Linked DNA regions of Homo sapiens: region 2 is linked to region 1. Evidence: fine-mapped expression QTL. Tissue or cell type: whole blood. Region 1 holds a variant in brackets; the other region holds the start of a gene. All regions are shown on one strand. Distances are from middle to middle.

Region 1 (4,107 bases):
CGCCTGCAGGAGGCGGCCCGCGCTCGGCCCGATGCCAACCTCACTGTGGCACACCCGGGGCCCTGCGAATCGGGTACGCATGGCCCGGGGCCCCCACCCCAGCACTTAGGTTTCCTAGAGGCACTGCTCCCCGACCCCTGACAGCATTGGTCTCTGGCCAGCAGAGCAAAAAAGATAAGGCTATAGAGGCCTCGAGTCCAGTATAAAACCCTGCTCTCGCTACTGGTTCATAAAAGCTGCCACCTTAAGGTGGGGGTGGGGGGTGGAGTGGAGTGGGAGTCCCGGGCTTCGTCAGCAAGCTGCATTCGCTGAACCACGTGAAAGCTCCAGAGCTGGCTGGCAGGGAGAGACAGGTCCTCTGAGGGCGCAGGCACATAACCTATGGTTTGCTCAGAGACCCCCCCGACTTTTCCCAGACCAGTGGAGTCCAGGCAGCAAGACGGGTTCCTGTGAGATGCAATCACGTTTCATTCTTAGAGCAGTTTGTTCACCCAGTCTCCCCACCTCTCTGCTTTCTCCTGCTTTTAGGGATTAGTGAAGGGGAGCGGGAAGTTCTTTCTCTATCCCTGGGGACTGGGGTCCATTCAGGCCTCTAGCTTTCCTTGGTAGCTTTAGTAACTTTCACTTCCTGAGCCCGGGCTCTGCGTCTGGCTCGGCTGGGGCAGCCAGAAAACAAACACCCCGTGGGGGTCCCAGCAATTTCCTCCACTCCTGCAGGCTTCCTGCCTGTCGCACAAGTCCAGCTTCAGGTTCTCTGCCTTGCCGCAGGACTCCCCCAGGGGGTACTGAGGAGGGAACGGCTGCTTTTCCTCCTTTGGGAACTGGGCCTGTTTAGAAAAGGGGAAGGGGGATCTGGAAGGTTTTGATTACAGGCACGCAGGAAAGGCTGGGGAGGGTGAAATGAGGACAGGGGAGCAGTTAGGGACAGAGTGGCTGCCAAGCTACAATGTAGATGTGTGTGCTTGTTTGTGCATTGGGTCTGCATGAGGTTCTATGTGCACATGTGCATGTATACCTATCTCCACGTCTGCGTGGTACCCTTGTGTGTACCAGCATCCATATCTGTGTGTACCTGTGTGTGTCACGGTGTGTTTATGGATGTGTATTTACCTCAGCATATATTGTGTTCTGCCACAAGCATGTCCACAAAAATTTGTGTATCATGTCTTTGCCAGACTGGATGCCTTTGCTGGGCCATGCTATTCTCAGACCTCCCGCCTTCACCCCCAGGGCCCCAGATCGTGTCACATCCATATGACACTTGGAATGTGACAGGGCAGGATGTGATCTTTGGCTGTGAAGTGTTTGCCTACCCCATGGCCTCCATCGAGTGGAGGAAGGATGGCTTGGACATCCAGCTGCCAGGGGATGACCCCCACATCTCTGTGCAGGTAGACTGGTGGGAGAGGCTTCCCTCAGGCAGCCCAGGGCCCTCCAGAAGGACCCTGCTGATTCCTTGCCTGGCTCCAGTTTAGGGGTGGACCCCAGAGGTTTGAGGTGACTGGCTGGCTGCAGATCCAGGCTGTGCGTCCCAGTGATGAGGGCACTTACCGCTGCCTTG[G/C]CCGCAATGCCCTGGGTCAAGTGGAGGCCCCTGCTAGCTTGACAGTGCTCACACCTGGTAAGGGGATTCCTGAGTTCTGGGGGTTGGGGGGATGGTGCTGGATTCCAGTTGTGAATGTGTAAGAAACAGACCATGTGTCTGTATACACAAGCATAGCCTTCCGCAGACTGGGCTATGTGGGCACCGACAGCCCCTCTCTCCTGTTCTCTCTTCTTTGCCCATGTGTGTTTGCAGACCAGCTGAACTCTACAGGCATCCCCCAGCTGCGATCACTAAACCTGGTTCCTGAGGAGGAGGCTGAGAGTGAAGAGAATGACGATTACTACTAGGTCCAGAGCTCTGGCCCATGGGGGTGGGTGAGCGGCTATAGTGTTCATCCCTGCTCTTGAAAAGACCTGGAAAGGGGAGCAGGGTCCCTTCATCGACTGCTTTCATGCTGTCAGTAGGGATGATCATGGGAGGCCTATTTGACTCCAAGGTAGCAGTGTGGTAGGATAGAGACAAAAGCTGGAGGAGGGTAGGGAGAGAAGCTGAGACCAGGACCGGTGGGGTACAAAGGGGCCCATGCAGGAGATGCCCTGGCCAGTAGGACCTCCAACAGGTTGTTTCCCAGGCTGGGGTGGGGGCCTGAGCAGACACAGAGGTGCAGGCACCAGGATTCTCCACTTCTTCCAGCCCTGCTGGGCCACAGTTCTAACTGCCCTTCCTCCCAGGCCCTGGTTCTTGCTATTTCCTGGTCCCCAACGTTTATCTAGCTTGTTTGCCCTTTCCCCAAACTCATCTTCCAGAACTTTTCCCTCTCTCCTAAGCCCCAGTTGCACCTACTAACTGCAGTCCCTTTTGCTGTCTGCCGTCTTTTGTACAAGAGAGAGAACAGCGGAGCATGACTTAGTTCAGTGCAGAGAGATAGGTGAGGCCAGCTCGAGATCTTATACCACTCTGTATTGGACAAAGGCTAGCACAGGGCTAGGCACCAATAAAGATTTCTAATGATGCACAGACAGTTTATGCAGATGTGCACATGAAAACTGAATATCCCTGGGAGGCCTCCCACACTAACAGAACTCTGGCTTCCAGAAGCTGCAGGGCCTGCTCTCTAAGCACATGCCTGCCAGATGTACAAAGAGAAAGTTTGAACTTGGGCCTATCCCGCCTTTGAGGGAGGGAGGCTGGAGCCATATGGCTGGAGGGAAGTTATCTTCCCCGTCTGCCCTCCATTGGGGCTGATATACATTATCTGCTTCTTTGCTCATCTTATTCCAAACCCTTCCCCAGGCCAGAATGGGGAACAGGGCTATGTGGGTTGGCCCCCAAAATGAAAGCATAAACTGGATAGAGGAGGGTGGAAGTTTGGTCACCTGTGTGGTCCATACCCTTCCCCAGCTCCCATAGGAATCTACCCATTTCCTGCAGAAGCCAGAGTCATGGTAAGGCTGTTTCCTATCTGCCCCAATTGTGACCTGTCCTCTCTGGCTTGGGGTCCCCAAATCTCTTTCCTCATTCTCCTTACCTATCCCAGGGACACTGGTGAGACTCAATGTTTATTTAATGATTGGAGGAAAGAATGAAAGCATAAGTCAGCGAGGCCGAGGCGCTGTGTGTAGATGGCGACAGCCTCCTACACGCCAGGGCTCCACCCGGATCCTGGCGCCACTGCGGGAGGGCCTGCCCTTGGCTCAGCGTCAGAGTTTGTCCTCTGGGGCCCAACGCAGGGAGCCTGGCCACATGGGAGGGGTGTGGTCCGGAACTCCAACCCCAGGTCCTGCTTGGCCGCCCCTCCCGCGGCTACGCACTACTCCATCTACTGCTGGCTTGCCCCGGGTCCTTAAGCCAGCGACAGTTTTTATTGCCGAACCCAGGCTGGAAGCGGGCGGCCCTAGGAGCCGCGCACAACAGCGCAAGCGGGCTGGATACCGGGAGCCGATTCCAGGGCGCCCACAGAAGCAGAATCAGAGGGGTAGGCGGGGGTGGGGCGTGCTGTTCGGCGCTGTGGCCAAAATCCGCCCGGCGCTGAAAGAGGGGACGTGGGTGTGAGTCCCAGCATCAGCCAGGGAATCCGCCCCTAGCTTGTTCTTCGCCCAGCTGGGCTCCAAGACGCCCTCTGCGGGCCCATAGCTCCTACCGCGTCCACCTGCAGAGCAGAGGCTCCTCACCAAAAGCCCCACCCCACCGGAGAGGGTCACGCAGGTCCCGGGGAATCCGCACTCCTTAATCGCGTTAGCCGACTTTGTAGGTGTTCAGGAGCAGCCTCCTAGCAGCCTCAGTTTTCCCCTCCCCGCCCTGCTGGTTCAAGCACCACAGCCTGGAATGGGAGAACTGTTGTCCACCGCCCCCTCCCTCCCCGCACCCCGCCTCTGCTGCAGCGGACCCGCTTTAATAATGTCGCTGGAAAGTGACACGCGATTTATTATTAAAGTAATGCGGGCGCAGGGACGGGAAAGGTTTAATAAACGTGCTGAGATGCCGAGGATTATTCACCGCAAATAAATGAGAGCGCGGGCGGCGTTTTAATAAATAATTTCCCGCTGCTCCCGGGGGAAGGCAGG
Region 2 (4,085 bases), 34 kb before region 1:
AGGGCCTGAACAGTCCAGTCTGGGATCCAGCCAGGGGAGCTCTGCTGGCTAAGAAAGAGGAGAGGAGCTGGAGATATTTATCTGGTCCTGCTCACAGAAAGCTCAGACTCAGGGGGCCTGGCTCCGCACCTGGCATTCTAGGTCCTGTCTTGCTCATCAGCTGTTAGTCACCTCACATCTGTCACTACAGCCAGGCTGGCTCCTAAGTGCCCACCTACCATGCTCCATGCTTTTCACTTCCAGCCTTTGTTGGTGACAGCTCACCCCTGCCACCAGCTGTTCTTATTGCTCTGTCCTGCTACACTGTAGATTCCTGGAAGGTGAAGAGGGAGCCTGATTTCTCTCTAGGTCCCTTGTAACACCTCCCCAGGGCTGGTATAGAATTGTGCTCCATGAAGCGGCATTAAGCAACTACATAAGCTTAGGTCTCCCCTTCCCTGATGGAGCTCCCTCTCCACCCTCAACCCTCCTCTTCTGAACATTTGCTGTGCTGCCTTCATTCCCCTCCTTCAGCACGGAAGCCCTGAATTCTGTCTACCCGCTTGGGCACTGACTCCTCGCAGCCCAGCACAGAGCTTGTCACACAATGGACTGGTTGATGGAGGATGTCCTTCTTTATCCTGCCCCATCCCCCAGAAGTACACACAATGGATCTGGAGAAGGGCAGAGCCCATGGGAGAGAGGCCAGTTCAATCCCCTGCCTTGTCCACCAGGGGCTAGCATACCACACGCATGCCTGTCCCTGCTGCCATGGCCTTCTTTCCCTCCTCTGACCCTTCTACGACCCTGGACCCCTGCAGGATTGGCCTGGAGGAGAGGCCAAGGGCAGGTGAGGAAGAGTGTATGGGTTCCCAGGCGGCCTGCCACCTCCCTGTGACTCCCATCTCTTGAATTCCCCCAATCATACTGGCTCTGCCTCCTCCTGCTGAGTTCCCATTGTCCCCTACCCCCACCCTCCCCAACCCAGGCCAGTGGCTGGGTCCCGCCCCTACCTTCGATGGGGGAGTTGATGAGGATGACGCGTCCCATGGGCGATGAGGCTCGGATTCCGCGGGGGGGCCCGTTCAGCAGCCGTTGTTGCTTCCTTAGCAGGTATCGCGTTGCGGTGGAGCCTGAGTCGCTGCCTAGGTGGCCTCGGGAGGAGAGGGAGCTCAGAGAGCCGGAGCTCAGGTCTCCTAGGCCCAGTGGGTCGAAGCCCACTGCGAAACCCTGCGCCATGGCGGCTGGGCTAGGGCGGCACCCTACAGGTCCAGAAGGAATCTGCTAGCTCTGGAGAGGCCAGCCCTGCGTGCTTCGAGCTCCATGAGCCTCTGTGCGGGGCTGGGGTCTCAGTAACGTGAAGGCCCTCGCTTGCGATGCCTCTCAGAAGTGTGAGCTCCAGGCCTGGGCAGGGAGAGCAGGGATGAGGGAGGGGTGTAAATGTTTCCCCTGCTGCCCCCTAAAACTTCCACCCCTCCCCCTGGTTTAAGCATCCTGCCCTCCCATGCCTTAGGCCCCCCTCCTGTCTCACCCTAGGCCAGAGAACTGCCCCGTCCAGGCACCATCTTGGACTCTCGCTGACTTTATACAAGGCAGGTGGGAACCTTTCACCCCTCATTCCTGCTCGGGGCTGAGTCATCTACTCCCGTCCCCAGTCCTCAGTAGAGGTTGAGAGTGGAGTTGGGATTACTGCGGGCCCTGGGGCTTAGAGAGGTGTGAGACAAAAGAGAGGTCAGGACAGCTCATGGCATCACCTCTCTCATGCATATGCGGGCATGGAGGTGGCCCGGGGTGGGGCGGGGGCTGCGTGGGGCGGGCTGGGCCTCGAGGATAGGGCTTCAGGACCTTAGACAGCTGAGGCCCAGGAAGACCCCCAGACACCCGCGGGCTCCAGGCTGCGGCTCCGGGTCTAAAGAGGCTGCATGAACCTCTCCCAAGCTTTGGGGAGGATCTGCTGGAGAGGGGTCCCACGACATCCCGCGCAAAACCCAGGGCCAGTTCCCTCAGAGAAGCTCTGGGACCTAGAATGAAGCACCCCAACATCAACTCGGCCCTCCAGGCCCCCCACCCCTTTGTGCCTGGTCGGCCTCACCTGGTCGCTGGTGTGGCGCCGCCAGCCTTGTCAAACCACCCGCAGGCGAGAGCTACTGCCGCAGCCGGCAAACCCCACCCACGCTGCGCGGAGGCTGCGGGAATTGGGCTGGCCTGCACCGCCCCGGGCTCCCATTGGCTGGTAGGGCCGCCAGTCATTCTATTCCGGCACCTCCCTTAGGCGCCAGGGACAGCCGAGCGTTACCTGGTCCCGGGCAGCGGAGTTCTTTACCCACCCCAGTTCTGGTTCTGACGCCCTAGCTCATTCCGCAAATTTAGGGCTTGGGTCTGGCTTGTTCCCCTCCGGCTCGAACCACCTCTTCTCTGAGCCGAGCCAGCTACCGGGGCTCCTGGAATTGCCACCCCTCCCTGGGCACCCTTGAGGCCTCCGTGGAGGGACGTCACGGGGCAGAGCGGGACGTGAGCCTGAGTTTGCTGCAGGCGTGCTCTGTGTGGTGGCTGGGTGAGTTGTGAGTATGTGCGTGGCGGAGGGGGTGCCTTCTTCACTTGCATCCTCCTCCTCTGTCAGAAGGCGTCTCTGGCTACCCAGTTCTGGAATGGTCGCAGGGTGGGGCAGCTGGTCCCAGGACCGGAAGAATCCTAAGAATCCTTCTGATGCACTTGCTCGGATGCAGACCGCGAGGTTCCTGGGGTCGTCTGCCCCTCCACATCTCAGGGGTGGGGCTACGGTCTGGGGTGCAGGGCTAGGGGTTGGGAGCGTAAGGAGACCAGGGACACAGTGGAGCTAGGGGTTACAGAGGGGGAGCAGGGAGAGGGCTGGGGACATAGAAGAGGCACAGGCACGACAGGAACGGGGCTGTGAAGTGATGCGAATGCCGCGCTGCTACAAGAGGAGCTTGTGGATACTGGGGTAGGAGCCCAGGGGGACAAGCAAGCCAAAGGCCATTGCCAAGGCAGCCATCAAGTAAACAAGCCAGGCGGTAACCCGAGTCCCTCCCGGCGCGCCAGCAGAGGACCGCCCCTCCACACCGCCCACCTGCGCCCGGGGCTTTCTCTCTGGGCACCTAGACCGCTTGCTGCAGGGCTGGGGGTCTGCTGAGGCCCGCCAGGGGACTGTAAACCAAGGGAGCAGCGCCCGCGGCTCCAGCCCCTCCTCCCTTTGGCTGGGGAGGGGGCCAGAACTGATCCCCGAGGTGGGATTGGCTCTGGGAAGCAGCTTAGGGCCTGGTCCAGGTGGCCCAGGCTGGGGGCATCGCCTCGAATGACACCCACCGCCCTCAGGTTCTGCCAATCCCCGTGCCCACCGGGTGGGCGCGGCCGGGAAGCTCCTGCCCCTCCCTGCTGGTCGGCGTCACGCGTGACGTCCCGCGTGATGGCTGGGAGGGCCCGGCGGCGACAGCGGAGGCAGAGAGGAAGGCGGTTCTGAGAGCTTCAGAGAGCGATGGAAAGCGTAAGTGCTCGCTCTCCCCGGCGGGCGGGGTTCTGGAATGGGGGTCAGAGAAGGAGGCCTGCCTTGAAACTGTCTGTCCTGGTGCAGTCAATGTCCTCGGCTCTGTGGAGGTCCAAGTCCACAGGGCACAAGGGAGGTTGGGGGGAGGAATGTCAGGGTGGGGCTGTGTGTAGTCACACATTCAAGTGTCTGCAGATGGGCACAGTGTGCGCCTGTAAAGGTGTTTGAAGGCCGGTGTATACAGGACACCTCCACTCTGTCTGTATGTCTGGGCAGGGTGTGCATGATAGTGTCTTTGTGTGTGGGTATGTGAGTGTGAGGGGAGGGCGTCTCTGCCTCTGCGGGAGGAAGTGTGGCTGGAGAGGATTAGTCATTCTGTAGGATTCTGCCCAACTCAGCCAGATGGCTGCACCAGGCTTTCCTCTCTGTGCTGGGTGGAGGGAGCAGCCACTGAATCCTGCTCTTATCCGGAGGCAAGTGGCCCAGAGAGAGGTGGATGAGTGTCTGTGCCAGCCCTGCCTGGCCAGGGACCAGGGAGAGCCTGGGGTCATTCAGTGTGAGTTGGAGAAAAATGGGTCTGTAGAGAGGACTTGTGCGTGCCCAC

What was found. PIP is the estimated chance that this variant, and not a neighbour inherited with it, causes the effect. A credible set is the group of variants that fine-mapping cannot tell apart.
Region 2: SFXN3 starts here. The variant in region 1 is the best candidate, but not a certain one, in a credible set for the expression of SFXN3 in whole blood (INTERVAL, PIP 0.84).

What each region holds. Positions count from the first base shown.
Region 1 is chr10:101,063,031-101,067,137 of GRCh38, forward strand. KAZALD1 (Kazal type serine peptidase inhibitor domain 1) reads left to right here. Exons shown (of 5, transcript NM_030929.5): 2 at 1-73; 3 at 1,231-1,391; 4 at 1,471-1,618; 5 at 1,796-4,029. The coding sequence ends at 1,890. Among named protein-coding and RNA genes, the nearest start is that of KAZALD1, 3.1 kb to the left of the region's middle. The variant G/C (reference allele first, on the strand shown) is at 1,562.
Region 2 is chr10:101,029,002-101,033,086 of GRCh38, forward strand. It overlaps SFXN3 (sideroflexin 3), which reads left to right and starts at 2,233. Exons shown (of 12, transcript NM_030971.6): 1 at 2,233-2,533; 2 at 3,313-3,481. PDZD7 (PDZ domain containing 7) reads right to left here and starts at 2,128. Exons shown (of 17, transcript NM_001195263.2): 1 at 2,072-2,128; 2 at 993-1,383. The coding sequence starts at 1,218. RefSeq lists an enhancer at 2,546-2,755.